6 separate regions of the Homo sapiens genome follow, and all the other regions are linked to region 1. The links come from fine-mapping of genetic effects on gene expression. A gene starts in region 1. Each other region holds a variant in brackets. All regions are shown on one strand. Distances are from middle to middle.

Evidence for each region. PIP is the estimated chance that this variant, and not a neighbour inherited with it, causes the effect.
Region 2: its variant is fine-mapped to the expression of LHPP in whole blood (INTERVAL, PIP above 0.99).
Region 3: its variant is fine-mapped to the expression of LHPP in whole blood (TOPMed, PIP above 0.99).
Region 4: its variant is fine-mapped to the expression of LHPP in skeletal muscle (GTEx, PIP above 0.99).
Region 5: its variant is fine-mapped to the expression of LHPP in spinal cord (GTEx, PIP above 0.99).
Region 6: its variant is fine-mapped to the expression of LHPP in caudate (GTEx, PIP 0.99). The same link has a PIP of 0.9 or more in amygdala.

The regions. Positions count from the first base shown.
Region 1 is chr10:124,459,552-124,463,635 of GRCh38, reverse strand. LHPP (phospholysine phosphohistidine inorganic pyrophosphate phosphatase) reads right to left here and starts at 1,813. Exons shown (of 7, transcript NM_022126.4): 1 at 1,649-1,813. The coding sequence starts at 1,773. RefSeq lists a silencer at 1,474-1,933.
Region 2 is chr10:124,481,427-124,485,510 of GRCh38, reverse strand. It overlaps LHPP (phospholysine phosphohistidine inorganic pyrophosphate phosphatase), which reads right to left. Exons shown (of 7, transcript NM_022126.4): 2 at 1,185-1,372. Among named protein-coding and RNA genes, the nearest start is that of LHPP, 22 kb to the right of the region's middle. RefSeq lists enhancers at 761-1,296, 1,297-1,833, 3,444-3,980 and a silencer at 3,517-3,811. The variant G/A (reference allele first, on the strand shown) is at 2,468.
Region 3 is chr10:124,603,654-124,607,737 of GRCh38, reverse strand. The region is part of intron 6 of LHPP (phospholysine phosphohistidine inorganic pyrophosphate phosphatase); the gene reads right to left. Among named protein-coding and RNA genes, the nearest start is that of FAM53B-AS1, 98 kb to the left of the region's middle. RefSeq lists an enhancer at 897-1,841. The variant T/A (reference allele first, on the strand shown) is at 1,912.
Region 4 is chr10:124,494,179-124,498,262 of GRCh38, reverse strand. LHPP (phospholysine phosphohistidine inorganic pyrophosphate phosphatase) reads right to left here. Exons shown (of 7, transcript NM_022126.4): 4 at 1,239-1,302; 5 at 135-227. Among named protein-coding and RNA genes, the nearest start is that of LHPP, 34 kb to the right of the region's middle. RefSeq lists enhancers at 1,330-1,907, 1,908-2,485, 2,486-3,063. The variant A/C (reference allele first, on the strand shown) is at 1,844.
Region 5 is chr10:124,592,653-124,596,736 of GRCh38, reverse strand. The region is part of intron 6 of LHPP (phospholysine phosphohistidine inorganic pyrophosphate phosphatase); the gene reads right to left. Among named protein-coding and RNA genes, the nearest start is that of FAM53B-AS1, 110 kb to the left of the region's middle. The variant G/C (reference allele first, on the strand shown) is at 2,033.
Region 6 is chr10:124,574,769-124,578,852 of GRCh38, reverse strand. The region is part of intron 6 of LHPP (phospholysine phosphohistidine inorganic pyrophosphate phosphatase); the gene reads right to left. Among named protein-coding and RNA genes, the nearest start is that of LHPP, 110 kb to the right of the region's middle. The variant C/T (reference allele first, on the strand shown) is at 1,933.

The sequences.
Region 1 (4,084 bases):
ATCCCAGCACTTTAGAAGGCCCAGGCAGGTGGATCAGTTGAGGTCAGGAGTTCGAGACCAGCCTAGCCAGTATGGTGAAACCCCATGTCTACCAAAAATACAAAAATTAGCTGGGCGTGGTGGCGGGTGCCTGTAATCCCAGATACTTGGGAGGCTGAGGCAGGAGAATCACTTGAACCTGGGAGGCAGAGGTTGCAGTGAGCCCAGATGGCGCCACTGCACTCCGGCCTGGGCAACAAGAGCAAAACTGTCTCAAAAAAAAAAAAGTGTCCTCATGGTCAAGTCTTGGCTGGCACGATGTTCTCTTCCTCCTCCTCTCACCTAAACCAATGCAGTCCAACAGAATTATAATGAGAGCCACAAAGGTAATTTAAAGTTTTCTAATAAGCACATTAACAAAAGTTAAAAAAAAAAGGTATACTTAATTTCAAATATTTTAACCTAAAACAGTATATTAAAAATATTATCAACTGGGCATGTGGCTCACGCCTATAATCCCAGCACTTTGGGAGGCCGAGGCAGGTGGATCACCTGAGGTCAGGAGTTAGAGACCAGCCTGCCCAACATGGTGAAACCCCGTCTCTACTAAAAATACAAAAAATTAGCCGGGTGTGGTGGCACATGCCTGTAATTCCAGCTATTCAGGAGGCTGAGGCAGGAGAATCGCTTGAACCTGGGAGGCGGCGGTTGCAGTCAGCAGAGATTGCACCACTGCATTCCAGCCTGGGCAACAAGAGCAAAACTCCGTCTCAAACAAAACAAATAAAAAAAGTAACTGGGCATGATGGCGGGTGCCTGTAATCCCAGCTACTCGGGAGCCTGAAGGGGGAGAATCACTTGCACCCGGGAGGCGGAGGTTGCAGTGAGCCGAGATCGTGCCATTGCACTCCAGCCTGGGCGACAGAGCAAGACTCCATCTGAAAAGAACAAAACAAAACAAACAAAAAGTATATCATTTCAACAGGCAAACAACATAACCCATTTTCATGTTTTTATTTTACATTTTACTCACGAAGTCTGGTGTTTTTGGGGGTTTTGTTTATGAGACCGTCTCGCTCTGCAGTCCAGGCTAGAGTACAGTGGGGTGATCACAGCTCACTGTAGCCTTGACCTCCTGGGCTCAAGCGATCCTCCTGCCTCAGCCTCCCAAGTGGCTGGGCCTACAGGCGTGCACCACCACACCCGGCTAATTTTTAAATTTTTGGCAGAGACGGGGTCTCCCTATGTTGCCCAGGGTGGTCTCCAACCCCCTAGCCTCAAGCGATCCTCCCTCCTCTGCCTCTGCAAGTGCTAGAATCACAGATGCGAGCCACCGCGCCCGGCTAAGTCTTGTTAATCGGTATGCATTTTACGCTTACAGCACATCTCAATTCAGACTGGCCGCAGGTCAAGCGCTCAGCAGCGCACGTACCAGGTGGCCGCCCTGTCTGACCGCGCAGCCCTAACCAGCAGAGTCCTGGTGCTCGCCGGGGGCAACAGTGGGGTCGTCCGTGGTCAGCACTGTGCGCGCACCGGGGTGGGAAGGGGGAGACCGAGGCGGGGCCTGCGCCGCGGCCCCGCCCCCTGCCGCCCCGCCCCCTGCCGGCAGCCAGGGAGCGGGCTGAGCTTAGAGCTCGGCGGCCCCAGCGGCGTCCCGGGGCCCACTCACCTGGCCACCGCCTCCACCGAGCCGGCGATGGCCGTGCCGCCGCCCGCGCCGCTGTCGTACAGCACGCCCGAGATGTCAAGCAGCACCCCGCGCACGCCAGCCAGCCGCTTGCCCCACGGTGCCATGGCGCCCGGCCCTGCTCCTCAGCTCCGCGTCCCAACCGACGCCGGCGCCGGCGCCGCGGCCGCGCAGGGGCGCCTGGGAACTGTAGTCCCGCGGGCGGGGCAGGGCAAGAAGACCGGGTGCAAACCCGGAACTGGGGCGCGGCCTGGGCACCCCGGCGTCACTCGCCCCTGAAACGGTGTCCTTTTCGGAAGCTTTCTTCCCAGGAGATCAGCGGACAAAGAGCAGGAAAAGCAGAAAACAAGTCCCTAAGAAAGGTCAAAGGCAAATTGAGACAAGAAGGCACCTGTAGCCAGGGGCGGTGGTTCACGCCTGCAATCCCAGCACTTTGGGAGGCAGAAGCGGGCGGACAGCTTGTGCCCAGGAGTTCTAGACCAACCTAGTCAACATAGTGAGACCCTGTCTCTATTAAAGAAAGAAAGAAAAAGTACAATACAAAATTGAGGCCGGGCGTAGTGGCTTATGCCTGTAATCCCAGCACTTTGGGAGGCTGAGGCGGGTGGATCGCTTGAGATCAGGAGTTCGAGACCAGCCTGGTCAACATGGTGAAACCCCTGTCTCTACTAAAAATACAAAAATCACCTAGGTGTGGTGGCGCATGCCTGTAGTCCCAGCTACTCGGTAGGCTGAGGCGGAAGAACCGCTTGAACCTGGGAGGCGGAGGTTGCAGTGAGCCGAGATTGCACCACTGCACTCCAGCCGGGGCGACAGAGCAAGACTTTGTCTTAAAAAAAAAAAAAATTATATGCAGATAACAGCCCTGCATAGATGAGGATGCATAGGACCTGGGCTGAGAAGAAAACGGGACTATCACAATGCGTTAAACCCAGGAGGTTTTTGGATAAGCTATAAAATACCACTCGATGCTACATTATTTTTGCAATAAATACACATTGATATTAAAAGGGAGGAGTTTCCTCAATGGCCCCTCGGAACCTTTCAAGTTATTAAATAGAAACGAGAACACTTTACTTCTGGTCCAACATAGCTTTGAGCTTTCAAAGAAGAGAGGATCATATTATTTCACCATTTCTTTTCAGGCTCTTGATTCACAGAAAGGATGAGGAATTCGTTGAAATGTTATGGGGTTCAATGAATTGTGTATATTTTGTTGACATGCTTACTAGGGGAGCTGTTTACAAGTGAAATAAAATACAGTTCCTACCCTTTGGGATTTCCACTAATGGGGTTGGGGAGTAGTATACCTTATATAAGGGTTCTTAGTCGCAGACAATAGACACCACTCCAGCTAGAGGGGTTTTGTTTACATGAGGTGAAGGAGCTTACAGATGACGGGTCTAAGTCCTACACAGCCAGGAGCCATGCAGCCACGAGAAACACTTAATTTTACTACTCCATTGGGACCACTGCCCCATCACTTAGTGCAGCCCCCAGCATAGCTGCCCCCAAAAGAACAAAACATATCCACCACTGTGCCCTCCACCTGTGGCCACCCACTCACTTTCACTGTGTCTGGCTTGGTGGAACCTAGCCCACGCTGCAAAGGAGTCTGGGAAATGCAGTTTTTAGTGTTCCAGGGGCTGAGTGAGTCAGTTTGGAGAATCTGCTAGGAACATCATGAACCGTACACGTATTGAGACCCTACTCTGTGCAGTGGGCACAAAAAAGTTCTAGGGTGTGATCCTTGCCTTCCAGGATCAAGACTGGGCAGAGAACAATGGAAGACCTTCACGACTGCTGACCAAATGTGTGCCAAGTGGCAATGAGTGACACAGACACAGTCAAGAGGATGACCTCTGCAGGCCTAGGAGGGCAGCTGTGGCTTCTGGGCAGGGGCAGCCTGAAATGGACCTTGGAGAATGGCTGGGCTTTAGCTTCATGCCAAGGAGGAGGAAAAGGGGTGCTTCTGCCAGTGGTGTGAGCCTACCCATAGTTGTTTCTTTTCAGTCAGCTCTGTGGGTACTCTTGGGCAAGTCCCTTTTCATTTCTACGACTACAGTAGACAGAATAGTGCCCCCTTGAGATGTCCACCTCCCAATCCCCACAACCTCTAAATATATTACCTGACATGGCAAAAGGGACTTAGATCTTGCAGAGCCTATGCTCCTGTAGGGAGATTATCCTGGATGGTCCAGGTGGGCCCAGTATAATGACATGAGTCCTCATAAGGGAAAGAGGGAAGCAGGAGAGAGTCAGAGTCAGAGAAGGAGGTGTGACAGCAGAAGCAGAGGTCAGAGAGAGAGGTGTGAAGATACCGTGCTACTGGCCTTGAATACAAAGGGGCCATGAGCCAAGAAATGCAGGTGGCCTCTGGAAGCTAAAAAAGGCAAAGAATTGGATTCTCCCCTAGAG
Region 2 (4,084 bases), 22 kb before region 1:
AAAAAATTCCAAGTCTGAAAACAAGGGTCTAGTTATTGAAAACACGGATGCAGGATTACAGCTGAGGAAGGGCATTCATCCTCCCTTCAGCCTCCCAGCTTTGCCGTCTGCTTGTCTGATTCACTGGCCAAGGCCACCCTCCAAGCGGATGCCCACTTCCCTCTCCTGCTGGCTTCTTCCAGCTCCACTCCCGGGTCCAGCAACCCTTTTCTGGAGGGTGGGGCAAGATATTTTTCTTAAATCTTCTTTCTTTGAAGACCATGTTCTAAAGGCACTAGCAGGGATCCTAGATTACAGAGAAGGAATTTTGAGAAACATGATTTCTAAAGGCCAGGCCTGTCACCCTTAACTGGCACCAGGGCTATGAAGTCGACATCTAGGCTTTCCAGGGAGCACCCGCCACTTCTTGAGAGCCCCCACCTTGCCCTGGAAAGGAAAAAACCATGTTTGCCTCTGCCTAGCAGTTTGTAAAACTAAAAATATCAAGTGCAGAGGAAGGAAGAAGGTGCAGTGGACCAATGGAGAAGTGTCTGGAATTGCTAATGTCTCTTCTTTTTAAATATTCAGGAGGCACCAGTAATATTGTTCCTTCTGCTTCATTCCAAGAAAACCTCCCCACTGAGGGTCAAAGGGGCTGTCTGTTCTTGCATTCAGACTAAAATCAGGATGCAAACCTTGTTCCTACGCCATTTGCAAACTGTTCCAAAGAGCAGGGCTGGTTTTCACATAGTTGAAGGCTATGGTGCCAGACGTTAGAAGCTATGGACCTCAATGTAGCTTCTCATTTATATTCATTCATTCTCATTCTCATTTTCTCTCTCTCTCTCTCTCTCTCTCTCTGTCTCTTTCTCAACAGGAGCTAGAACTCCGCCACCTTGACAATTCCCTGGCCGCTTGGTCCATCCTAGATCAGGAAAGAGAGCCTAGGATTTTCCTCCCAGGAGCCATCCAGAACCTGCTCTAAGGACCCTCTGGTGTGAGGCCAAGGAATGGACAGAGCTGGGTCCTAACCTGCCCCCAGCCCCCAGCAGGAAGTCCCATGAGGTTTTTACCCCCAACCCATGAGTGTTGGTGGCCTAGCTCAGTCAGTGGTTTGGCCCAGTGAAAGAGGCTCTCTGCACAGCCCCCACCCTGGGAAAGGGGAGCTTTCACCCCCGTGAGGTCCTGGTGTCCGACAGGCCTACCGTCATGGATGAGCAGGTATGGTCGCAGGCCTTGCTCCTTCAGGATCTGGCAGGCAGCTGGTGCCGGGGCGGTCACCTCCTGCTCAGAGATGTCAAATCCCAGCCTCTGAAGCTGCCCCACCAGCTCTGCCCGGGACTTCTGCGACTCGTTGGTGCAGAACCTCACCTTCAGCCGGGAACGCTTCAGTCTGCGGCAGGGGAGACACAGGCCCGGGAAGTCAGCACGTGGAGTGTTGGGCCTCTGAAGGAGGTTGCGCGGTGATTCTCGAAGGGCATCCAGCAAAGCCCAGAGCAGACTAGGCCACTGCGAGCCCCTGAGGGGGTCCTGGCTGATCCAGGATGTGTTCAGGCTGGGATTTCTGAGCTGAAGCAGATCCCTTCTCAGAGGACCCCCATACCACGCCCCGACAACTCTTTTCCATCCTCACTGGACTTCATACACCTGAGGCTCCCCGAGGTTCCCCACCTGACCCCCCTTTTCATTGCCTCTCCCCTTGCCTGGAATGCAACTCTGTCCCCCCGCCTCTCTACCTGTGCCACTTCTTTATTTTTTTTATTTCTTTATTTTTGAGATGGAGTCTCGCTCTTGTCGCCCAGGCTGGAGTGCAGTGGCATGATCTCAGCTCACTGCAACCTCCGCCTCCCAGATTCAAGCGATTCTCCTGCCTCAGCCTCCAGAGCAGCTGGGATTACAGGCGCCTGCCATCATACCTGGCTAATTTTTTGTATTTTTAGTACAGATGGGGTTTCACTATGTTAGCAAGGCTGGTCTCGAACTCCTGACCTCAGGTGTCCCAAAGTGCTGGGATTACAGGTGTGAGCCACCGTGCCTGGCCCACCTGCCTGGCCACTTCTACCCAGCCCCTGAGATCCATGCAATACCTCCTCTCCACAATCCTGCTCAGCCTGGCTAGGGGCCACCTCTGAATGTCCACAGCTATTTCTCTGTCCCTTTCCACCACATTTGGCATTTCCACTTGCAAGTGAGCTGCACACGTCCACGCCTTACTAACTCTGGATCCATACTTCCCAAAAAGTACAAAGGCAGATGGCCCGAGACAGGTTTGTCTTCTCATCACTGTCAATGGAGAAAGGTTTGCCAAAGTCATCAGGGACACCAACATTCCGGGATGGACAGACAGGACGTGGACCCTGCCCAAACCCAGCCTGGAGGTCTCATGAACTTCAGGATGCTGCCACTGGCCGGCGGCACCGAGCTTCTTCCCTCCTGACTTCATAGGAGACCCGCGAATCCAGGCTGCACCTGGGCAAGTTCTCAGAAC[G/A]CACCAAATGAAGTAACATCCACCCTTCTGCAAACTGTCACTGAGCGCCTACTACGTGCCTGGCACTGGCCTGGTGCACAGAGCTGTAGTCGTGAGCATGGAAAAGTTCCCTGATCTCCAGGCCACCATCCAGGTTGGAATAGGAGGAGGTTGGAATAGGAACAAGAGACCCTGCAAAGGAAGGGCAATTTGTGACTGAGAAGAGAGAGACGCTATGCAGAATATAAACAGGGTGAGCAGACAGAGGGTGACAAGGTGGGGTAGGAAGGTCAGGGGAGGCCTCCCTGGGGAAGCAAGAGAGAGGGCCAGGGTGTGGTGCTTCTGTGCAGGGAGAGGAGGCTGGAGGACCTGGCGCCCACCAGGAAGGGACCCGAGCGTGCTAGAGGAACCTACAGAGGCAGGCGGGGTGGGTCACTCAGACCTGGGGGGAGGGTGACAGGCAGGACCTGGCTCCCTCGCCAAGATCACAAGATCCCTTCCTGGACAAACCGGCCCCAACAAGGCAGCGGTCATATTTGACATCTGCATGGAGCTGCAGTGTGGACTCGTGGAAAAGACATCAAGCTGCAAGCCCAAGGGCCGGGAGGCACTTTTAAGAAACCCTAGTAAAATTAATCAGCCATGCTAATTGCATCTGGCACTGTTCTCAGACAGGTCCCGAAACACACACATTCCACTGATCTCCAAAGATGCAGACATCTTGGCTCTTCACCTATTCTTTCAAGTTGTGTATTTTTTATAACCTAAGCAATAGTGTTAAATGAATAATTTAAAATTTATAGAAAACACACATAGAGAGGAGGCATGTGCTCAAGTTCTGTTTACAGATGTGGCCCAATGAAATGAATACACGCAGATTCAACCCAGTTACTAGAACTACGGCTTGAAATCAACTTCCATCTGAGCAAGTGAGACCCAACTAAAAACTCAACTCAAACTGAACCCAGTGTGAATGTAATTTATCCATGTTATGGGTGAGGGACTGAATCCCAGAAATGTCAAGGGCTTTCTGTTCCGCTCTTGAGCCTGAGACTTTGGAGATGGAGCTGATATCTACACACAGTGGAGTCAGGAACAGGAAATCAGCACTCCTGGAGCTCTCCCACATAGTGGGGAAAGGACACAGCCCAGTGTGGGGTCTTAAAAGACTGGGGATTCAGGCCCAACTGGAGACCTGAGGGACGGACAAGGAGATGGCAGGAAAGGGCAGGCCAGGTGGTGGGAAGGGCCACCCACCTTGCGCACAGGCAGGTGTGCACTGGCCCCACCCTCTCGGATAGAAAGAACTCGAGCAGCGTGGGGTATGTGGAAGGTGGAGCCAGGAAATGAGGCTGGAGTGGAGGACCACTGAGAGGGCAGATAAGGCAGAGCATGGTGGCTCAGTCCTGTAACCCCAGCACTTTGGGAGGTCGAGGTGGGTGGATCACTTGAGGGCAGGAGTTTGAGATCAGCCTGGTCAACATGGAGAAATCCTGTCTGTACTAAAAATACCAAAAAAAATTAGCCAGGTGTGGTGGCGGGCACCTGTAGTCCTAGCTACTCGGGAGGCTGAGGTAGAAGAATCTCTTGAACCCAGGAGGTGGAGGTCACAGTGAGCCAAGATCAAGCCACTGCCCT
Region 3 (4,084 bases), 140 kb before region 1:
AATTCTTCCAGCAAACACCGCCCATGATTCATCATCCGAGCCCCCGGGGGACTGGCCCCCAGGACCCCCTCCTTGGACACCTTCCCCAGGTGCCCTGGGGCCAGGCTTATTGTCCAGGCAAAAGCAACCAGCCCCGAGAGGGAACAAGAGGTCTCCCCATAGAAGATGACGCTTTGTAATGAGAATCCGGCCAGCCCCACTCCGCACGTGTACCTAGCCGAATGGCGTCCGTGGCTAATTATGTTTAATTACATATCATTTAAATTCAAGAATCCACTAAAAGAAAGGATTGCATTAGCACCCGGCCGGTGTTTGCCCACACGCAGCGGAAATCGTGGACTTTTATGTCTTAATTACGTGACGCTGCTGTGGGCTGTGTCTCCCAGGGAGCTGGGGTAGGCAGGAGGGGACCTGTTCCTGGCCTGGTGGCCCCAAAGCCCCTGAAGCAGCTCTGCTTTGTCCAATGGCCTGGGCAGGAGGAGTCCCTGCCCCACACTGGCCAGTGCCCTGTGACCTGTGGACCTCAGAGATGTCACGGTACAAAAGCTGAACCAAGAAACCCAGCAAAGGTGTGTCCTCGGCAGTGGGTACAGAGCGGAGAGGGTGAAGCAGGAGGGGCCGCAGACCATCCTGCCCGGAGTGGCCCTACTGGGACAGAGCTGGAGGAGGAGGAAGAGACAGACAGAGAGACACGGCCACACACGGAGGGAGGGAGGGCAGGGACAGGAAGAACCATGAGACAGGCAGAAACGGAAAAAGAGGATGAAGCAGAGAAAAGAGGGCAGAGAGAGGGCAGGCGAGTAGAGACAGACACATGGAGGGAGGGGACAGGCATGGGACACAGGAACAGGGGCAGGGGCCTGTAACAGGCAGGGAAGGGCTGGGGCTGCCCCCACGGTTCTGTGTCCTGGCCATGTGGGCCTGCGTTAAGCCCCTCCGCCCTTCCCTGGCTACGGGCCTGGCTGACGGCTCCCCGTGGGGGTCACAGCGCTGCTCCTCCCCCTGCCCCAGGCCCAGCCCAGGCCCCCAGACAGCTGAGCACCCTGCTCTGTCCCCAAAAAAGTGCATGGCCCAGGGCCGGTCTCTTCACCTGCCCGAGCCTCAGTTTCCTCATCTGTAAGGTAGCATAGGGCTTGGCTCTGGGGGCCACTCTGAAACGAAACAAAAGAGGCAAGACTGCACACGAAGTTGGCGTTTCCCCTGCACCTGGGGACCCTGCAGCTCACCCTGGCGCTGGCCCTGCCCCCTCCCACCTCCACCATCTGCCCTCCAGGGTTCACAGTCCAGTTCCACACTCACAGTTGTCAGCACTGCTGGGAAAGAAAGAAAAGGGCCTGGAGTCTGAGGGCACTGATGGGAGAGGGAGTGGGGCAGGACTGAGCGGGGCAGGGACGCTTCCGGAAACAGGGACGTTAAGGCTGAGCACTGCTCCCGTCCATCGTCCTTGCTGCTGTCCCCCCGAGAATGGTGTGGAGACACCAGGCCTTTGCTGGGTGGCTTCTTCACTAAGCCAGAGTGCCTGGCCCTCGGGGCCTGGCTGGGAGGTGGGAGCAGTGAGTGATTTCCCCAGGCGCCTGCGGGGCGGCTGCGGGTTCTCCTCTCCTCTCCTGGGGGCAGCCTCCCTCGGGCTGCATTTGGGCGTCTCTGGCTGAGGACCTGCTTCTGATGTGGGGTGGGCCCTCCAGGTACCTCCCCCATCCTTGCGCAGGAGCCTGCAGGGTGGGTCCTGCTGCCCGGGTTTCGGAGGTAGAAGCGGAGGCACACAGCTGGGAGGCATGTGGCTGCAGGACCAGGAGGCTGGCCTTAACCACCGGAACCCACAGGGTGACCCGGGCCCCTTGAAGGCAGGAGGTCTTCTGCTGAAGCCTGTTCCCTTCCCCTTCCCCCTCCCCCTCCACTGGCTCTCCCTCC[T/A]GCCTGGCCCCCTCTCCTCTTTTGCAGCCAGAGTGGCTTCCCTAAATGCTCAGCTGCTCCCGCCTCCCCTGTGTAAACTGCTGTGGCTCCCTATTGCCCACATCATAGCCTGGCTCCTCAGCATGGCAGATGAGTCCATCCTGACTGGGCCCCACCTGCGGACCTCCCTCGCCTCGCCAGCCACTCAGTGTCTGGGCTGCTGCTCTTCAGACATCCCAGCTCTCCCTGCCATTGCCCATGCTGTGCCCTGGAATGCTCTTGAAACCTGCTCCACCTGCAAACTCCTGTTCACGTTTCAAGACCCCACTCACCTGTCCCCATCTCCCACTGTATGCTCCTTCCACAGGGCGAGTTGCTCTCTCTTCTGAGCATGCAGAATGTGCCCTCCAACCACCCCATGCCATCAAAGCTGGGGGCTGCTCTGCCACTTCATCTGCAGGTGCCAGTGTTGACTTCGCTTCCTGGAGGGACAGGCCAGGTTTCCTGCCCTCGGTGGTCCCCCCCACAGGCCTGACCCAGAGCAGGCACCCAGGAAGTGCCCACCAAATGAATAAACAAAGGCCCCCAGCTGGGCAGGCCAGTGCCTGTCATCAGTGATTCCTCCCCCTCATGCTCTGTCAGCCGAATGCAGGGAACGGGTGAGTGAGAGGCAGAAAACAAGGCGGTTCTGTGCCTGGGGCCTGGCCAGCTTCACAGGGACAGTCTTTGTACCAATCGAAGGAAAATGGTGGCCAGGCCCCAGCAAAAGAGCCCCATGAGGCCAGTCTCCCTGCCGCCTCCTCCAGGGCACACGCAGGCCAGCACCGCCTCCTGGGGAACACTGACCAAGGGAGACGGGTGCGGCCTCTCCCCGAGGGGCTCTTGAGGGACCTGAGCTGCCCGGGACTCCCAGTCGGTGGCCCACCCGCCTCCTCTCTACCCTGCAGGGGCAGGGGAAGGGGCAGGGTGGGGCAGAGACTCTCACAACTGGAGGCCGCAACAGCTGCCTACCCAGGGAGGGGCAGGTATCCCTGTCCCCATTTGCTTTGGAAAGGCAGTGGCTGGGAGCCAGGTGCAGGGGGCGGCTGCCCAGTGAATTCAGGGATCTGGGCACTGGCATCAGAGGGTGACGCCAGCTCGGCTGTGCCGACAGACTTGCAGGACAAGGACAGAGGGTGATTCATGAGGTGGAGGTAGTGAGGCCGGGCAAGGGGCATCCTTCCATCAGAACCCCAGGAGCCCAAGACCCCCGGGGGCCTGGGGGGTTATTTCTAGAAGGGTGTTCACCAGAGCCTGACCCTGGCAAGTGCCTGGAGGATGCAGCTGGGAGGTCTGCCTCCACCTGCACACCCGCAGCTTCTCTGAAGGCTGCTTATCAGATGGTCTGCACCGGTACATCACACACACTAGGCCTGTGCCCATGGGGTTCCCTGCTGTCCACGTGCTGGCCCAGCACGGCCACCCTCAGGACAGCAGCTTGCTGGGGCCCAGTGAGGTGGGCAGAAGGCCCAGAACATCCCACATCCAGCCCGTGACCTGGCCTGAGCTGGGTCCCTGGCAGGTGCCCGAGGGTCGGTGGCCTCCTTACGGGGTAGCTGGGTGGCGGAGTGGAGATGGCCACAGATCTCAGGCAGGCTGCTCCGACCTCCGTCCCCTGGGTTCTGGAAGCAGGTCGGGGAATGACATGCCCAGACCCATGTACCTCTGGGAAGGTGCCATGTCGTGCTGCTTACAAAGAAACCCGAGCAGGAGCTCCTTCCCATGGAGCCTGTGCATCCAGCCAAGGCCTCCCAAGCCCCTCTTCTCCCAGGACCTGGGGGTCAAGAGGCACACAAAGGACTCTGACCTGGTCCCTGCCTGCAAAGAGCTCACATGGCACCTGAGCCCAGCACTCCAGCCCCAGGCCCGGGCCTTAGCAGCTGCCTGGGGGACACAGGCTCCAGCCTCAGCTACCTGTTCTCACTCAGGGATTGCTCAGCCCTCAGGCCCGTGTCCTCCCAGGCCAGCTCTGCCCACAGGCCTGGGGACTGCTGAGTCAACCTGGAGCCCCGGAGCCCAGCGTGGGGACCCTCCAGCCCAGGGCACCTCCTGCCATTGAAGCCAGCTGGGTCCTGGCACGAAGGGTGGCCTGGAGGGACCGGAGGGTCCAGGGCCACATCAGTGCCGAGGCGAGGGCCGCGAGGAGGCTCCCAGC
Region 4 (4,084 bases), 35 kb before region 1:
GCTTTCACAGGGAGCCCACGCTTGGCTGCCTGGCCAACCCCACAGGCTGCCTGAGTCCTGTAATCCATTCCAAGCTCCAGGGCCTCCCTGACGGGGCTGCCTCCCCTGACCCACTTCACAAGGCGCCAACCTACCTGGTGGGCTTCCACTCCTATCGCTTGCAGGGCAGACTTGAAAAACTCAGGAGAAGGCTTCCCCACCACCTCGGCTTTGATGCCACAGGCATACTGGGAAAAGAGAGAGGGACATGGCATAAGTTTGGGATCAAGGAACAGGTGTATGCCCAGCCACGGAAACACTGTCCCAAATGTGCCCCCAAGAGTCAAGGGCCTTGAAGAAGCAGGATGCTGTGGGCCTGAGAACTCATCTCACAGGCAGGAGCCTCACAACTCCAGAAAGGGCTGCCCGGGTCACTCAGGTCCCCTAGCACCAGGCACCCTGCCATCCACTCAAAGGCCTACCCACAGCAGAAGGCATCCAAGAGCTGGCAAAACTACAGGGCTCCCAAGGGCCAGCAGAGCAGTGCTCTGCTCACTCGCCTGCAATTCCGTCCTCTCATCCCTTCTCCCCCTCTTCTCCCCTGCCCACTCGCAGCTCATCACAGGGCTCCATCTGCTCGTCTGCCTCTCCCTCCCACCTGACGGCAGGCAGGCAGGAGGGGCTGCAGCTGTGAGGATGGGACGGGATGTGAGGCTGACCTGGGGCAGCTAATGGGACCTGGGCCAGAGTGGACCCAGGGGAGCCCCACCCGGAGGCCTGGCCACAGATGGCCTTGGAAACTGAAGGGGAAGTCAGGAAGGAGGCCAGTGAGGACCCGTCAAGCTTGAGGTGCTGCAGATGCCCAGGGTCAGGAATGAGAGCGGTGGTCAGCACTGATACAGAAGCCACAAGCCCGAGAGGAGTGTGGCAGAGAGCAGCTGGGAGAGCGGCAGGGTCCACGGCGGGCAGGGGGGGCTGCGCCCACTGGAGGATGGGGAGGATGGGGAGGATGGGGAGGATGGGGAGGATGGGGAGGATGGGAAGGATGGGAAGGGAGAGATGGGGAGGGAGGAGGACAGCTGAGGGCCTGAGGGCCCGAGGGCCCGGCCAGGGGAGCCCAGAATAGGAAGGCAGCCTTTGTGGAAGCCCAAAAGGCCATTTGTACGTTAATTAAGCACAGCCTCTTCTCAACAAAGACCCAAAAAGTCCCAGGTGCCCTGAGGTCTGAAGAGAGTTTGGGACAGAACCAGGGCTGGTACCTCAAGCGCCTTCATGTAGGGACCAACGTCCAGCATCAGGCCAGAGGTCTCCTTGTAGTAACGCCTAGGAGAGAGCAGAACGGAGCACGGGATGCTGAGCACGGGGAGCTGACCGCAGGATGCTAAGTATCGGGAGCTGAGCACCGGGCCTGTCCCGCTGGCTGCAGAGCCAAGCCGCGGCTGAGGGGCAGTCCAGGCGCTACGCTGAGAATGACCGCAGGGGACCAGCACCACAGAGCCGGGCGGCAGGCCGCCACACCCAGTGGGGCGAGCGCAGCAGCCAGCAGCTCCAGGGATGCCACAGGTCGCACAGAACGCAACCCTGCTGTCAGACTCGTGGGGACCCTGCTGCAATGATTAACAGGGGACCCAGAAGGCAGACGGTTTCAGTTGCTAACACAGAGAATGACAAGTGACCTGTGTCCTGGGAAGGAACAGCAGGTCCACGGGGTATGTGGCGAACCCCTAATTGCTAATAATTAACCCCTAATTGCTGGCTGAAGAAGAGAACTCCATTAGTTCCACAGCACCCTGCCGCATCCCGTTAGCCGGAGGTCAAGCGAGGTGCCAGGTTTCATGGGCGCCAGATGCTTTTATGAGAAGAC[A/C]ACTGTTCCTTCCCGTCTCATGGAGGTGGAGACAGGCTCTGCACGAGGGAGCATTCCTCTCTCAAAATGGCCTCACTGCTCTTTGAGCCCAGGGCTGGCTTGGTGGCTGGCTGCAGCCCGGCCAGGCTCACCCTACGATCGCGTCACACTGAGCCTCAAGGCACTCACAGTCCAGACACATGGTGGGCCAGACCTGGCTCTGGCTGAACTAAGCCAATTGACTACAATGAGGCGAGAAAGTGGTTTAACCTGCGCTGCTCTGAAGACGCAGTTCATTGAAAGCCAAGAATACACAAGGGGGCTTGATTCTTGGAACCACTAAAATGTTTTGCCATCCACCATCACATCAGTTTCCCTCTCCTCCTGCCATGCCCTTACGATATGGGAGACGTGGAGAAAGCACGTATGCAGAAAACGAGAGGGAAGAAGAGCGCATGCTGACTTGAGCATTCAGATCTCACTGCCTTCTAACGGTGTGACTTTGGGTTGCTTACGCCTGTGGGCCTCAGTTTCCTAATCTGTAAAATGGGCAAAACGAACAACAAACAATACCTACCTCACGGATTGCTGTGAAGCTTGAACAAAATAACGCATGCAAAGTTATTAACTCGGTACCTTCCATGCAGAAGCTGCCCAGATGAGACAGGAGAATATTATTATAAATAACCTTTCACCCAGGCTGACACAAGCAATAAGATGAGCTGGGGGAAGGAAAAAATGAACACAGCCCTGTTCAATTTGGGGGCTGAAATGTGTTCTGTGACCACCTGGGGTGTGAGAACTGAGCTCCTCGGGAGCTGCCCTGGGGCTGTGCCCTTCCTCCAGCTCCGCCACTCCTGGGCACCCTGCCTGTCCCTTTCTGCCCCACCTGATGCCTTGAAGCTGTAGCAGGCACCCAGCCACACCTGTGAGATGAACCGCTCACCCCTGTGCGTCCTCCACTGCCTGCCTCAGATGCTTCCCGGCTAAACTTACAAGCTGGGCTGCAGGTACGGGCTTCAGCCAAACCTGGGCCTTGCCAGGGCTGGTCCCCCTGCCACTCCTGTTAGGCAGCTTTGGAGCTTGGAGTCTGTTTGTTGAAGGTGTGGGCATCTCCTGTCATGACGTGGGCTTGGGACTCTCCACGTGAACCCCAGGCCTGTTCCACAGCCTCTGAGGCTCTGTGCTCTGGGGTCACGGCACAGGGATACAGGCTGGCTGGGATGCTGTGAATGCTCACAGAGGGGGGACCTGAAAATGCCCTCCCTTTTAGAGTGACCCCCAAAAACAGGCTTAGAAATCTCTAAGTTCATGTCTTAAACGCAGACTTCAAATGTATATTTTGCATTTACATGGCCTAAAAAAGTACTGCTTTTTCTTTTTCCCAGTTGGACAATCAGCTACTTTGGTCTGATGGTTTCCTTAGTGGGGTCCAGAGTTCTCAGGAAACAGTGAGGGGACACCGGGTCCTGGGGCCTGCACTGGCTGGTGCTGCAAATGGCCCAGGTTACCTTGGTCCCCCTTGGCATTAACGATCCCAGATGCTCCACAGCCCTTTGCAGGACTCAGGGATACTCCCAGCCCCAGCCTGCTCCACAGGGACTCACAGTCTGGTGGGGAAGCAAAGAAGCCCACAGACAAACTTTAAAGGGCAGGACCCAGGGGAGGGGCAGTCTGCTTGAACAGGGCGGGGGACAGGCTGGGTTCAGGGAGGCAGCAGAGGCATGGAAAGCTGAGACCTGAGCTAAAAGGAAGTGAAGGGGAGGTCCGGGTCCAGGGAGCACCTTGGAATCCACTGAGCACCCTGCTGAGGACCAGGGTGGCCACGCCACCACAGGCAAGGCCCTCTGCAGGCCCTCAAAGGCCATGACCCTCGTCCCCTCCTGCCCACCTGTGCCAGGAGAAGGAGGGCATCGAGGTGGGTAGGGAGGGCCTCCCTAATGAAGTGATGTGTGGAAGTAAGCCAGGACGGAGGAAAGAATATACCCCACACAGGAAATGCTTACCCAGCAACAAAAGAAAACCTGAAATCAACAAAACTACTCCATTGCGACAGGTACAGCTCTGTTTGGAGCTGAGGATTCTGGGGGCTTCTGGGCCCAGACCCCTGTCCCTCAGCTACCCTGGGGCCGGCTGGAGGAGCTAGAGGTTGGGTGGACGGGAGCAAGCACCTCCCATCATCTGGCAAAACCTCCTAAGGGGACCCACGCGGCGCCACTTCCTCTGGCCTCAAGTTCCCTGCAGCCTCTTCGAAAGCGAAAG
Region 5 (4,084 bases), 130 kb before region 1:
AAGCAGGTCCCTTAAAGTCGGGCCTCCCCACCCGTCCACCCAGCTTCATGGTGTCCCCCTGCTCATAGGCCAGGCTGCTCCTCCCTGGGTGTTGTTTAGGGTCCCACGTTTAGGGCTCTTGTTCCAAGAAAAGAGTGGCCCCAACCTAGAGATGCAGCTGTGCTACCTCCACAGCTCTCCAAGGATTCACACGGGACTGCTTATGAGCGCCGGCCCACTCTGTGTGTGTTCCACCTAAAAGGGATTCATGCAGGCCCCTCAGGAAGGAAATGACACCGCTCCACGTCCACCTGAATGGCCAGCGTGGAGAGGTCCGGCCACATCGTGTGCTGCAGAAGACATGGTGCTATGGGAACTCAGCGAGGCTGGCGGGAGCGCAACATGGTACATCAGACACTCTGGAGAAATGTTTGGCAAGAGTCTCCTACACTAAACACATGAATGCCGCGGGACCCAGCAACCTCACTCCTGAGTCACACACATGAAATGAGGCTATGTCCACCAAGAGCCATGGACAGATATGTTCTGATCAGCTCTGTTCATAAGGACCCCAAGCCAGAAACAGCCCATGTGACAGCAACAGTGACATGATAAACACATCGTGGTCCAGCCTCGTGATGAAACATCACCCACGGATGCCGTAGGATGGAGTCTGGCTGCACAGAACAACACGGATGAAATGAACGGTGGGTGTTCATGGGTAGGAGCCCATTCACCTCAAGTTTACCGTCAGGCAGAAGACGGGGGTGAAGGCACGGGCTAGCTCCCTCTGGAGAAGAGTGTTGACTGGGTGGAGGGAGGCTTGGGTATTGGAGGTGCTCCTCGTCTTCATCTGGGTGGCTGTGCAGGGAGAGCGGTGTGTACAGATTCATCAGCCACACACTTCAGATTCATGCACTTTGCTATATGCAAGTTAAGCCTCAGACAGATGTCTTTATTTATTTATTTTTAAGTGTCCCAGATAGCCTAGAAGGGCACACAGTGATATTTGTACTGGGACAGATGCAGAGGAAGTTTGCAGGGTGGCTCAGAAACCACAGTAAGGAAGAAGGGAGATATCTACACCAGATGGCTCAGAAACCACAGTAAGGAAGAAAGGAGATATCTACACCAGAAGCCTGGGAATGTGAGCGAAAAAACTTAGCTTTGAGTTCCCTGGCAGCCAAAGCAAAGAGGGAATCCCTGTAGGTTAACACAGAAGCAGATAACTGTTTAGGAGTGACAGCCTTCCCAGCAGCACAGGCCAGGGTGTGAGGGACGTGAATGGCCTTCTATGGCAGCCAAGGCTCCAGCACAGGCTACCTTGGCGCTCAGAAGCCATTCTTCCCACACGAGCAGACTCCTGGCCATCTCCAATGGATGCAAACTCTGAGGTGCCTGCTGTGTGGCTCCATGGGGGACAACCGGGCTCTGGGCCCAGACTGCAGTCCCTCCTCCTCCCCCTGGCAGCCTGCTGGGTGCCCTCCTCGCGTCCCCAACCAGGTTGCAGCGGGTGGGGAAGAACAGAGCTGGGACTGATCCCTCTCCAGTGTTCACCCCCCAACCCTGCCCAGAACCCCCATGCAGGAGAAGTCACTCCAAAGGCAGAGGGGACCAGAGGCTGTCACCTGGGGAGAGTTCATTCCATCAGAAAGAGGCAGGCCCAGCCTCATTAAATGACATGGTGTATTAGTCTGTTTTCATGCTGCTAATGAAGACATACCTGAGACTGGGTAATGTTTAAAGGAAAGAAGTTTAATGGACTCACAACTCCACATGGCTGGGGAGGCCTCACAATCATGGCAGAAGACAAAGGAAGAGCAAAGGGGCTGGGTGCGGTGGCTCATGCCTGTAATCCCAGCACTTTGGGAAGCTGAGGCAGGTGGATCACTCGAGATCAGGCATTCAAGACCAGCCTGGCCAACATGGTGAAACCCCTCTCTACTAAAAAATACAAAAATTAGCCGGGTGTGGTGGTGCATGCCTGTTTTCCAAGCTACTCAGGAGGCTGAGGCAGGAGAATTGCTTGGACCCAGGAGGCAGAGGTTGCAGT[G/C]AGCTGAGATCACACCACTGCATTCCAGCCTGGGTGACAGAGTGAGACTCCATCTCAAATTAAAAAAAAAAAAAAAGTTTACTGAATTGAAGGAAAAAAGCTATAGGAATTGCAGAGATATTTACGATAGAAAAGGAGACGTTCGACCCTGGGAGTAGTTAAGGCCGGCAGAGTTTATCTGCTCTGTAAAATATTATGCAGCTATGAACAATGAGCAGGGTGAGAAAGAGAAGACTTATATGTGCACGTGCCCACAGCTACAGAAGGGGGCTGGCAGGAAACTGGAGGAAATGAACAACTGTCTAAACATGCACTTTTTTCTTTTAAGTTCCCTTGGCTACAGTGATGCTGTCTTTTTTTTTTTTTTTTTTTTTTGAGATGGAGTCTCACTCTGCCGCCCAGGCTGGAGTGCAATGGCATGATCTTGGCTCACTACAACCTCTGCCTCCTAGGTTCAAGTGATTCTCTTGCCTCCGCCTCCTGAGTAGCTGGGATTATAGGCATGCACCATCATGCCCAGCTAGTTTTTTTGTATTTTTAGTAGAGACAGGGTTTCCCCATGTTGGCCAGGCTGGTGTTGAACTCCTGACCTCAAGTGATCCGCCTGCCTCAGCCTCCCAAAGTGCTGGTGGGAGCCCCCCACGTCCGGCCGATGCTGTCTTAAAATGTGCGTAATAATAACAGTCTCTAGTTTGGTCATGGCAGCACTCCACAGAGGTACTGAGGATGCTGAAAGGTCAAGGGTATTCTGCAGCCCAGCCAGACGCAGCAAGGACCTGGTGTTCAATAGCTGTGGGAGGGACAGCCCTGGCCCTGGGGCCAAATACCCAAGCAGGGCAGGCATGGCAAATGCCACCTGCTCCGCAGACCATATCAGTACCTTATGGAGTAAGGGACACCCTCGGTCAGCCGAGGGAGCCCCTGGCGCCGGCAAAACCTCCTGCGTCAAACGCGCATGACCTGGAGACTGCCCAGAGCTGGTCCTCGCCCCAACCCCTCTCCTCAGCCACCGCCACTGGGGACGTCGCGTTTGGGTCCACCACCCTCTGGATAGAGTGCCCTGGGGGATCTGCCCATCAGGTCCATGGTGGTGCCTCACTCGGGGCCACTTGGGGAAGACCTCATGTCACACCCCCAAGAGGAGGACATGGGAGTAAAGTTCGGGTCATGCAGCCAACACACGGGGGCTAGAACAAGGACCCCAGTGTGACTCTAATGCTGGAAACAACTGCAGGGAAACAAGAGTGATCCCCCAACCTGAGAGATGGAGGGCCTTTAGGATGCAACCTCTCCCATCTCAGGTGTGGAAACTGAGGCCCGGGAGGGGCAGATGCTCATCCGAGGCGGCCAGGGAGGCTGTACCTAAGAGGATAAGAGTCTGTTTCCCTCCCGAGAGCGCAGCCTGGTTCTGGGCAGATGGGGTTACCGCCCTGCCACCCACGGGCTGCAGGACCCAAAGAGAAAGAGGTGCTCTCAGCTGGCTTCCCAGGACGCTCTCTTCTGTCTGGACTTGCAATCCAGGGACCAGGGCAGGGGGCATGTGCTGTCTTCATCAGTTCCTCCACACAGATGGGGAGACTGAGGCATAGCACAGGGACCCAGAGCGGGCCAGTGGGGAGGGCAGCACCCTCCCCCTGTATTTCCCTAGCAACTTGTACCCGGTTCCCCGAAACGCCGACTGAGGCCACCTCATCAATCATAGCTGCAACGTCATCACCTCATAAACTGTCAAAGCGGCCCAGTGAGGGTCCATTCATTCTGGCCCCCGGGACGCCAGCCTGCCTGGGGCGGTGCGCCCCACACTGGGCCGATTGTGCCCACAGGGACCCCATCCAAGCTGCCCGGGCTCCTGGCGGGCTGCCGCGCCCTGGACGATTCCTAGACGGAATCTTGTTTTCTTCAGTTTTCATCTCCAGGCCAGGGAGACAAGCTGCCCTCCAGGACACTCTGTCAACACTGCTTTGCTTTTCCTCAGACCCTGGTCCTGTCCCACCGTTTACTGGGAAGCCACAAACCAAGTAAGACAGCCATGGGGCCTCCGGGAAGGCCTGG
Region 6 (4,084 bases), 120 kb before region 1:
AAGAGCTTTTTTCCACAGTCAGGACAAAATGTGCCAGGCACTGGCCCCATGCCCCCTAGGTGCTGGGCTGCACTGGATGGTGGGGGTGCAAGCGGGGAGGGCAGAGATGCTGCTCAGCCCCTGCTAGCTTCTGACGCGTGGCGCGGTGTAAGCCCTGCATCCAGCAACTGTGCCTATGTCCCCTCAGCTCTGTGCCACCACAGCACCTGCCACACACACAGTTACATCCTCCCTGAACCCTCTCCCTCCCACACTGGCCAAGGCAGGGTGAGATGTCACCCTCTGAGCTCCCCAACACCCTGTGCCTCCTGATCAGAGCCCGTCACACCAGTGGTAACCGTTTGCGTCCCGCCAGTCCTTCACAGCAGACGCTCCACCTCAGAGACACTCAAGAACCCCTGCTGAATAAATGAATGGATGAATGAGTGAGCAGATCGGAGAAGGACACGTGAGGGCCAGTGACACATCGGGCTCCGCAGAGGACCCCAAGCCATGCCTGTGGCCCTGTGGCTCACCTGTCAAGTGGGGACTCGCAGAGCCGCCCCTGAGGTGGTCACGGGGCGTGTGCTGAGCACAGAGCCAGCAGCCCCTGCACGGACTTGGTCTTCGTTCTACTCCCTTGCAAATGCCCTGGGAAGCAGGTCAAGGCTATCAGCAGGGAGCAACCTGTGAAGGCTTCCTGGAGGTGACAGCATGTGGTGGGGCCTAGGAAGGCAGTGGGAACTCCAAATGTGTCTATGGGAGGAAGAGCGACTCAGGTGTGTGCCTGACCACTGTCCTGGGGCTTGGTCCCAGTCAGGTTCTCGGCTGGGGCCACTCTAGCACACCTGGCATAGAGGAAGAGGTCCTTCCAGCCCTTGGAAAGCACAGTTAGAGGAAACCTGGGTGGCACTCCCAGGATGGGGCTGTGTGTGCTGCACCGAGGTGGGGACCAGTGTGGCCCCACCTCACCTCAGGTAGCTCAGAGCCTGGGGGCTGAGAGGTCACACAAGGAGCTGGAGTAGCTGAGTACAGTTGTGACGGGGCCACAAGATTCAAGTCCCAATGCTGCCAGAGTGGAGGAGGGGCAGCCCCAAGGAAGGCCTTCCCCTGGGGAGGGATAGGAAGGTGAAGGTATGTGCATATGTGTGCACACATATGCATGTGCATGCATGTGTATTTACACATGTGTGCATGTATGTGTGCACACATGTGTAGGATGGGGCAGAACTGGTCACTGCTTCACATCAGGGAAGGAGAGATGACCACAGGGTGACATTTCAAAATGAGGAAGGCAGGGCCAGGCCTCTAAGGTTACCTGGTGCTGGGTAAAGAGGGACCTGGCTGTCCACCTGCCTCAGAGCCTCAGATTCCCTGGGGAACCTGAAAGCCGGAGGTGTGTCCTCTGGAGAGTCTCAACTGACAGTTTATGCAGCTAATTAAGTTTTTTCTTTGGATCCATAAAATCTCAGGGTGGACTCATTCCAAGGGATGCCTTCCTTTAAAGAAAAGGTTAGATGGGAAAAGGCTGTATGGGTGGGCCAGGGGTGGGAGGTGACCCCTGTGCCCAGGAGGCTGGGGTGGACGCTGGGGATGGTCTAGTCTTGGGTTGGCTGGGCTTGGCTGAGCCACCCTGGCCTCGGCCATCAGACACACAGCCTGGCGGTCGGGAGCACAAGCTCAGGACCCATCAGCCTACCTGGCCCTTCTCCTGGTCCAGCACGGACCCACCTGAGCAGGCTATGGAACCTGTCTGGCCTCTGCTCTCCTAGCTCTGAAATGAGGATGACAATGGTACCTACTTTCTAGGGTCTGGAAAGACTGAGTATGCGCTCAGTAGACTCTATTATTCGGTTTCCTTATCCTCAAAATGCAAATTACAGTGCCTACTTTATTTCTGGGTCGTGGCTGTTGAGAGGGCGGAGCAATGTACCTGTGCACTCAGGATCATGG[C/T]GGGCCAAGTCCCCTTGACAGTGGCACATGGAGGCCTGGCTGTGGTCGGGTGCTCAGCAGCCCACCCACGGGCCCGGGCTGGATGAGGTATCGTGGGCTACGGAAGGACAGGTGCACGAGGGCAGGGCTTTGCACAAACACTAATGTGGTCTCCCCGTCTACAGGGCAGGTAACTCCTGCCCTAAAGAACCCCCCTCAGCCCCCCAGTACCCCCGCCCTCAGCTCTGCCTATCCCTCGCTCAGGGAAGGAGTTTTGTGTGTGCAGTGAGGAGACCTCTGTATCCCATATTACCAGCAGGCCTGGGGGCAGACCATGGAGGAGGGTCTGGGGGCGAGATATGGGGGAGTCTGGGGTAAGATATAGGGGTGGCAGCAAAGGGGGATCTGGGGGCAGGCCATGGAGGGGGGTCTGGGAACAGCATATGGTAGGGAGTGGGAGCAAGATATAGGGGTTCTGGAGGCAGGATGGATATGAGGGGGTCTGGGAGCAGCTCATGGAAAGGAGTCTGGGGGTGGGATATACGGGTACCGCAAGGGGGGTCCTGGGGGCAACCCCTGAAGTGGGGTCTGGCCCTGCTGCCACCCCAGCGCCCCCACATGCTGCCTCATACCCCACACTAGTACTTTATGTTCTGCCGGGTTGGTAATGGGTTTTTCTTTGAACACGTTTCTGGGAAAGCTGTATTCTCACTCCTGCCTGCCAGGTAGTTTTAACATGTGTGAGCACTCTATTAGGCAGTACAATTATAATCTCATGTGAAGTCACCCTCAGCAGCTGATCAAGCCCGGGGTGTTCAGTGAACACAGTGGTTAAGAAACCAGGTCTGAGAGCTCCGGACAATGCAGAAACGACCAATCCAGTGGGAACCCCCATTTCTTTCGGCTCATACCTTTCTCATGAAGCACTGATTAGTATGTATCACAGCAGGCCCCAAGGGATGTGAACGTTTTCAGGGGGCCACCAGGCTGCCCAGACCCCCGACCTGGCACCCAGGTCCTCACCCAGCCCTGGCTCTCTGCCGTCCAGGCACCTCATGCCCCTGCGACCTCGCACACCCAACACGCCAGCCTTTCCTTCACTCACTCATCCACATGCACAATGCCTTTGGGGGTCAGGGTGTGGGGGACCGGGATGCAAGTTGGAGGTGGTGAGAGTGCAGGGGACACAGATCCGACCACGTGACGCAGTGGCAGTGGGTCCAGGGAAGCTGGTGCAGGAGTGGACAAAGGGGGCCAGGACGAGGGGAAAGACAGACACAAGGGCCAGCCAGTCCTGCAGACGCCTACAGAGGTCTCTGCTCAGAGCTTGGACCAAAGTGCTGAGGTAGGAGTCAAGAAACCCTGTAGCTCCTGCCCCCAGGAGAGGCTGCAGGACATGGGCACAGGGGACTGTCATGGAAAATCAGGGGCTGACGCATCCTAGGAAGAACAAAGCAGGGGTCCTGCAGAGAGAGAACCGGGTGCTTCTGCCTCAGGCAGCTGGAGAGGGCTTCTCCAAGTAAATGGCGTATTAGGGAGTGAACTGTACCTCCGCCCCCACTGAAGCCCTAAGCCCCAGTGTGCCTGTCCTTGGAGATGCGGACAGCTTGGTTTTGTCGGATGCTCCCCATGGTTAGGCTGAGTGGTGCGTTGGGGCAAGGGCACCTGCAGGAGGTAAGCTGCCCTTCTCAGCACACCAGGGGTGCACGCCGCTTCATGACTGGTGACATGAACCTTGATCACCTGGCCAAGGCTGTGTCCACCAGGATTCTCCACCGTAAACTTCCTATTTTGCCCTTTGTAATTGCTCAATATTTGGGGGTGGGGGGAATTACTTTAAGACTATGCAAAAATATTCTGTTTCTGCTTAAACTCCCCAAGGGCTCTGTTTCGAGGCTGCCAAGTTTGAGATACTTCATGATGGCAAGGGGGAGGTTGCATGGCTACTGATGGCAGCTTCTGAGCTCAGGGGAGGGCCCGGCAGGAGGCAGAGGCTGGAGAAGCATCATCTGGCTGGGTTTAAGGCCACAACCCAGGTGGGTTCCCTGGGGAGAGAGTGGAGAAGGACAGCAGTGGGCCCAAGCCTGGAGCCCATGACCTGGAAGATCAGGAAGGGATGGAGGCCTCAGGAAGACGAGGAGGGGTGTGCTTCAGGATGGCGGCCCCTCTCCCA